Homo sapiens: one gene and its partner. The protein of the gene in region 1 purifies or fractionates together with the protein of each later gene. This does not show direct contact. Each region holds a gene or a part of one and is shown on either strand. Other genes may lie near its edges.

Region 1 (3,747 bases):
CCCAAGGGACCCAAAGGCACCCTTCCCGGGCCGTTCACCCACCCCTCAGCCTCCCTCCACCCTGCTCTGTGCGTGGGGAGGCTCTGGGACCTGCCCTCAAGGGGGACTGTCAGGAACATGCCTCTCTTTTTAGGGGGCAGTTCTGCTGGCGTCGGGGGGCACTGAGGGGCACAGGGTTCCCTGTGTCTAGGCCTCAGGGACGCTCTGGATACTTCTGAGCTCCATGGGTGCCCATTTCACGGGCATGGGAGGCTGAGGCTCAGACCCAGGGCACAGCAGAGTGTGGGCGTCCGCCCGTCTTTCTCTGCAAGCCCCAGGAGCACACTGTCCCACTGGGACACATCTGCAGAGCTGTGTTCTCGCCGCCCAGGGCACAGCCACGCTGAGCCGGCTCGGTCGGATGCAGGTGCCATAGTCACAGGCGCTCAGGTCTTCACACCCCATCTGTGTCACCACAGCCAACAGGGTGAAGATGGCTGTCCCCAGAGGGGGCCGCTGGGCCTAGTGGGTGCCGCTGCCAAGGGTGAGCTGTCACCGCCCAGGGCCACCTGGAGGGGGGAGCCTGGAACCGGCTACAGCTGGTGCGGTCCCCACCACAGCCCTCCCCAGCCCGTTGCCCGCAGCCTGGCACACGAAGCTCCCACAGGGGGGACCCCTTGGTCTCCCCTCACCTCCTGTCCTCCTTTCCTCCTCGGTCTTTAGCATGGGGGTGCTGAGGGCCAGGCCAAGCTGAGGGGCTGCGGGGAGAGCGGGACCCCAGGTCGCACACAAATCTGCCGAGGGGACTGAGCCAGCTCGGGGCCCCTCCCCGCCCACAGCCTGCTTTCAGGCAAGGCCGCCACAATTCTCCTGCCACGTCCAGCACCTCCCACAACAGGGGCCGGCTTGTGGAGGAAGGACCTGTGGGGAATGGCCGCGTGTCCGTGTCCAGAGGCCCAGGGTCGGAGCGGGACAAGGCCAAGGTGCTGTGTGGGCTTGGCCTGGGGCCCACAGAGAATGGAGCCCCCGCCCGCTGAGGCCTGGGAGGCCTAGAAGTCATTCCCGCGAGTCGTCCGGCCCAGTCCTTATCCGCTGAGAGGCGGGGCTGGTGCGGGGCCTCCCCAGGGGTGTCATGAGGGAATGAAGAGACCCCACGGAGCCTGGGGAGGCTGCGCTCCTGGGCTCCATCCAGCCTGGCTTCCCCGCCAGCAGCATGAGGGCTGTGCGTCACCCGGTGGCTTGGTGGCCATGGGGGCCCCGTGCAGCATGGAGGCCCTGGTCTGGGCCCCGAACACGGGCCTCGGCCTACAGCCCCCCCGCCGGGCCCGCCCAGCCACAGCTTCCATCTGCCTGCTTCTCCTCAGGGCGCCGCACCCCAGGCGGGCAGCAGGCTTGGTTTCCCGATGGAGGAGAGCTGCGTGCCCACGGCACCATCCCCCAACCCAGCCGGCCAAGACGCCGGGCCCCAGCCCCGCTCATGGGCACGGGGCTGGCAGGAGGACCCTGGGGCCGCGAGGCAGGCTTCGCAGTGGACACAGGGGCCCTGCCAGGATCCTGTCCAGGGCTCGGCGGAGCTGGCCTCTCGGCCTGTTGCTCTTGGACAGCCCAGAGGAAGCCACGGGCGCCCAGGCGGGCATGAAAGGGCTCTTTGACGGCTGGGTTGCTGGGACAGTAACACAGACGGCCGGCCAGGCAGGGAGCATCCCTGAGACGGTAACAGGAAGCACAGGGCCTGGGGCTGGTTGTGGGAGTCTTCACAGCCGCCCTGGGCAGGTCGGGCTCCCCCTGAACCCCAGCGGAGCATGATCCAGCCCTGATTGTCTGCCAGGCAGGGCCAGGGGCTGGGACGGCCGGGAACTCCGTGGGGGCTCCTGCAGGCCTCCGTGCATGCACACACCCACTCCTGCCAGGCTCCCTCTGCCGGAGGAGTCCAGGGGGGCTCTTGTGGTGTCCAGTGGGGCCAGGGGGTGAGTCAGGGTCTGCTGAGCTCATGGGGAGGCAGGCAGAGGGTGTCTCAACTGCCAGAGACATTCCACCCACCTGGAATGACCCACTGCAGGAGGAAGGACCTTGCCCTGTGCTACAATCCCAGAGGGCTTCCTGAAGGAGGCAGCCTAGATCTTTGTCCAGCAGAGCCCATCTTCAGGGAATATTGAGGATCCCGACCCGTGCACCTGCCCTAGCGGAAGACACTCCTGGCCAAGCCTCCAGATGTGGCTGTGAGGGGAGTGGGGTAGGCAAGGCCCACCTGGCAGGGGGGCCAGGCTTGTTGGGGCAGCTGCTGTTGGGAGGGGGCCTACCTTGCTCAGGGGGACCCAGGTTGGCTCTGGCTTCCCCTCGGCACCAAGGTGGGACCATCCTTCCCTAGTCTGGGGGAGGCAGAGGAGTGGCCTCCCGAGGCCCCTGCAGGCCCTGCCCTGGGGGCTCCGGACGAGAGGCTCTCTGGGCCTGGCTGAGACGGTGCCTCTGTGCACTGTGCAGGGCCCCCCACCCCAGGCCAGCCTTGGGGGGCCTTTCCCTGGAGCAGACCAGCCACCACGCCCCAGGGCTCTGCCCAGCCACAGTGGGTGGGGCCTTGGGCGGCTACCCGCTCCTGAGTTTAGAGGGCTGTCTCAGAGACCTCTGTGTCCCACAACGGCTTCCCCACCATCTGCCGGGTGTGGGGGCCCCAGCTTTGGGGACCAGGACTCCCCGACTCCAGGTGTGCAGGGTGCCTGGTGCGGCCCAGAGTGTAGCAGCCCCTGAGCCTCGGCCTTGGCCTCACCCACTGGGCCAGGACCGTCCGTGCCCAGGCAGAAGCTCCCGCCTCCACTGGCTGTATTCCCAACGGGGGCAGGGCCGGGCTGCCGTAGGGTCTGGGGGCTCCAGCTGGGGCACCTCCTTCTCAGTCCCTCCCCTCTTTCCTCTCCCCCAGCCCTGGCCAAGATGGCAGCCCCCGCCCTGCTGCTCCTAGCACTGCTGCTGCCCGTGGGGGCCTGGCCCGGGCTGCCCAGGAGGCCCTGTGTGCACTGCTGCCGCCCGGCCTGGCCCCCTGGACCCTATGCCCGGGTGAGTGACAGGGACCTGTGGAGGGGGGACCTGTGGAGGGGGCTGCCTCGAGTACGGCCCACTATAGACATCGAAATCCTCAAAGGTGAGGCCCGTGGGTGCTGCCTGCATGCTCCCCCACCAGGACCCAACAGCCCACAGGGAGTGGGGAGCACCTGGGGCTTGGGAGGAGGGGCGGGAGGGGCACGCTGAGCACCAGTGTCTGCCCTGGCAGCGCTCCCTGCACAGGGACCCCTGGGCTCCCCCCGCAAGCAGGAAGAAGCCTGGCTTGGGGAGGGACCCATGAACCAAAGTGGGGTGCTGAGGATCCTGGGGAAGGGGGCCAGGGTTCCTGAGATCCCCAAAGTAGCAGCCCCTTGGGAAGGGAGCCTGGGCAGCCCGCTTGCTCTGAGACCCCTTGACACGGCTGCGCTGTCCCGAAGGCTGTACTAAGGTTAGGCTTGGGTAGGACCTTCCCAGCCTTCTCATTCTTTAACACCCAACGCAGACCGTAGCTGGCCCTGACCACCCATGTCCCCACCCTCTCGGTGGGGACGGCCTTGCCACAGGCCTTGGTCTAGCCACACCTTTGGAGAACGGCTTCTCCCCATCTTACAGACGTGGACGCGGAGACTGGGAGAGGGGCCGTCACTTGCAAAGAGTGTGTCCTTACAGTGACCCTTGAGCCCCAGCCCCTGGCCTGGGTGCTGGAATGGGGGAGGCCTGCCCAGCCCGGCCCCG
Region 2 (3,647 bases), on another chromosome or scaffold:
GCCCCATCTGGGATGTGAGGAGCGCCTCTGCCCGGCCGAGACCCCGTCTGGGAGGTGACGAGCGTCTCTGCCCGGCCGCCCCGTCTGAGAAGTGAGGAGACCCTCTGCCTGGCAACCACCCCGTCTGAGAAGTGAGGAGCCCCTCCGCCCGGCAGCTGCCCACTCTGAGAAGTGAGGAGCCTCTCCGCCCGGCAGCCACCCCATCTGGGAAGTGAGGAGCGTCTCCGCCCGGCAGCCACCCCGTCCGGGAGGGAGGTGGGGGGGATCAGCCCCCCGCCCGGCCAGCCGCCCCATCCGGGAGGGAGGTGGGGGGTCAGCCCCCCCGCCCGGCCAGCCGTGCCATCCGGGGGGGGGGGGGTCAGCCCCCCGCCTGGCCAGCCGTGCCGTCCGGGAGGGAGGTGGGGGGGTCAGCCCCCCGCCCGGCCAGCCGCCCCGTCCGGGAGGGAGGTGGGGGGGTCAGCCCTCCGCCCGGCCAACCGCCCCGTCTGGGAGGTGAGGGGCGCCTCTGCCCGGCCGCCCCTACTGGGAAGTGAGGAGCCCCTCTGCCCGGCCAGCCGCCCCGTCCGGGAGGGAGGTGGGGGGGTCAGACCCCCGCCCGGCCAGCCGCCCTGTCCGGGAGGGAGGTGGGGGGGTCAGCCCTCCGCCCGGCCAGCCGCCCCGTCTGGGAGGTGAGGGGCGCCTCTGCCCGGCCGCCCCTACTGGGAAGTGAGGAGCCCCTCTGCCCAGCCAGCCGCCCCGTCCGGGAGGGAGGTGGGGGGGTCAGCCCCCCGCCCGGCCAGCCGCCCTGTCCGGGAGGGAGGTGGGGGGGTCAGCCCTCCGCCCGGCCAGCCGCCCCGTCTGGGAGGTGAGGGGCGCCTCTGCCCGGCCGCCCCTACTGGGAAGTGAGGAGCCCCTCTGCCCGGCCAGCCGCCCCGTCCGGGAGGGAGGTGGGGGGGTCGGCCCCCCGCCCGGCCAGCCGCCCCGTCCGGGAGGGAGGTGGGGGGGTCGGCCCCCCGCCCGGCCAGCCGCCCCGCCCGGGAGGGAGGTGGGGGTGTCGGCCCCCCGCCCGGCCAGCCGCCCCGCCCGGGAGGGAGGTGGGGGTGTCGGCCCCCCGCCCGGCCAGCCGCCCCGCCCGGGAGGGAGGTGGGGGGGTCAGCCCCCGCCCGGCCAGCCGCCCCGTCCGGGAGGGAGGTGGGGGGGGTCAGCCCCCCTGCCCGGCCAGCCGCCCCGTCCGGGAGGTGAGGGGCGCCTCTGCCCGGCCGCCCCTACTGGGAAGTGAGGAGCCCCTCTGCCCAGCCAGCCGCCCCGTCCGGGATGGAGGTGGGGGGGTCAGCCCCCCGCCCGGCCAGCCGCCACGTCCGGGAGGGAGGTGGGGGGGGGTCAGCCCCCCCGCCCGGCCAGCCGCCCCGTCCGGGAGGTGAGGGGCGCCTCTGCCCGGCCAGCCGCCCCGTCCGGGAGGGAGGTGGGGGGGGTCAGCCCCCCGCCCGGCCAGCCGCCCCGTCCGGGAGGGAGGTGGGGGGGGTCAGCCCCCCCGCCCAGCCAGCCGCCCTGTCCGGGAGGTGAGGGGCGCCTCTGCCCGGCCGCCCCTACTGGGAAGTGAGGAGCCCCTCTGCCCGGCCACCACCCCGTCTGGGAGGTGTGCCCAACAGCTCATTGAGAACGGGCCAGGATGACAATGGCGGCTTTGTGGAATAGAAAGGCGGGAAAGGTGGGGAAAAGATTGAGAAATCGGATGGTTGCCGTGTCTGTGTAGAAAGAAGTAGACATGGGAGACTTCATTTTGTTCTGCACTAAGAAAAATTCCTCTGCCTTGGGATCCTGTTGATCTGTGACCTTACCCCCAACCCTGTGCTCTCTGAAACATGTGCTGTGTCCACTCAGGGTTAAAAGGATTAAGGGTGGTGCAAGATGTGCTTTGTTAAACAGATGCTTGAAGGCAGCATGCTCGTTAAGAGTCATCACCACTCCCTAATCTCAAGTACCCAGGGACACAAACACTGCGGAAGGCCGCAGGGTCCTCTGCCTAGGAAAACCAGAGACCTTTGTTCACTTGTTTATCTGCTGACCTTCCCTCCACTATTGTCCCATGACCCTGCCAAATCCCCCTCTGTGAGAAACACCCAAGAATTATCAATAAAAAAATAAATTAAAAATAAATAAATAAATAAATAAATAAATAAAAAAAGTTCTTGTCTTGGAATTCGCACATTTTCAAAGAAGAATGGCAAAGATGAGTAGTTATGGGAGCGAGGCTGGACCAAAATATCACAGAATGCTTTCCATGTCTATTCTCTAGTTTTTCAGGCAAGGCCATTTGAGGAGCCCTACATATTCTTCTTCTATTGTTAGGGAGAGGTGCTTTCACAACCTAGCCTTCTTCTTTTTTTTTTTTTTTTTTTTGAGATGGAGTCTCGCTCTGTTGCCCAGGCTGCAGTGTGGTGGTGCGATCCTGGCTCACTGCAACCTCCGCCTCCCAGGTTCAAGCGATTCTCCTGCCTCAGCCTCCCAAGCAGCTGGGATTACAGGCATCTGCCACCACACCTGGCTAATTTTTGTATTTTTAGTAGAGACGGGGATTCACCATGTTGGCCAGGCTGGTCTTGAACTCCTGACCTCAGGCAACCCGCCTGCCTCGGCCTCCCAAATTGCTGGGATTACAGGCATAAGCCATCACACCCGACCTACAACCTAGCCTTTCAAACAATCAAACCACTAGTAACAAGCACAAGCCATTAAAACAGAGATCTTGAAAGCAAACAGAAAACTGATTTTTAGTATTTTAGTCACATACTCTTCTATTCCTAAGTATTGTTCACAAAAAAATAGAACAGAAGCAAATCAAATAGGAGAACAGAAAAAATCTAACAGAATCCTAATTCCTTATGTGAACTTTACAATTTAGTATCAAGTAATTTTTCTTTGGTTAAGAAAAGAAAAACTGGCTGGCACAGTGGCTCACGCCTATAATCCCAGCACTTTGGGAGGCTGAGGTAGGCAGATCACTTGAGCTCAGGAGGTCGAGGATGCAGTGAGCCATGATGGCACCACTGCACTCAACCTGGGTGACAGAGCAAGACCCTGTCTCAAAAAAGAACAGGACAGGACAGAAGGACAGAACAGGACAGGACAGAAGGACAAGACAGGACAGAGATAGGACAGGAAAGGACAGGACAGGAAACCATGAGATAAAATTTCAAGAGTAAGATATCAAATAGTTGCCACAGTTCATAAAATATCAATAAAACAAACAAGCCTCCTTTATAACCTATAAACCACCAAACTTACCTGTTTAGAGAGTAGAAATAAAGAACACTGTTAACTTTTTATATTTTCCTTCTTTCAATTTAACATTGCATCATCATAAGCATTTTTGGGGTTCCCCTTAGTCTTTACAAGTACCATCTGAAAGCCTACATAATACTTTTTTAAATTAAATGTAACTATCGCTTTCTTAACCATTGTCTTGCAGGCCATTTAAACTATTAATCCTAATAAATATGTTATCTCACTCCACAGTTGTCAGCAATGGATTTTTTTTTTTTTTTTAATATTTTCCTGGCCGGGTGCGGTGGCTCATGCCTGTAATCTCAGCACTTTGGGAGGCAGAGGCAGGAGGATCAGCTGAGGTCAGGAGTTCGAGACGAGCCTGACCACATGGAGAAGCCCCG

The links. Proteins that work in one complex are often made in the same cells at the same time.
Region 2: the proteins of C1QTNF8 (region 1) and AGGF1 purify together in Homo sapiens (affinity purification with mass spectrometry; one large-scale study listed by BioGRID and IntAct). This does not show direct contact.

Annotation. Positions count from the first base shown.
Region 1 is NC_000016.10:1,094,080-1,097,826, reverse strand, and holds the start of C1QTNF8 (complement C1q tumor necrosis factor-related protein 8 precursor), read left to right. Parts: upstream 1-1,582; 5' UTR 1,583-1,671; exon of another isoform or gene 1,672-2,038; 5' UTR 2,039-2,212; intron 2,213-2,893; 5' UTR 2,894-2,904; coding exon 2,905-3,112; intron 3,113-3,747.
Region 2 is NC_000005.10:77,040,299-77,043,945, reverse strand, and holds part of AGGF1 (angiogenic factor with G patch and FHA domains 1), read right to left. Parts: intron 1-3,647. UniProt on the Homo sapiens protein: Promotes angiogenesis and the proliferation of endothelial cells. Able to bind to endothelial cells and promote cell proliferation, suggesting that it may act in an autocrine fashion.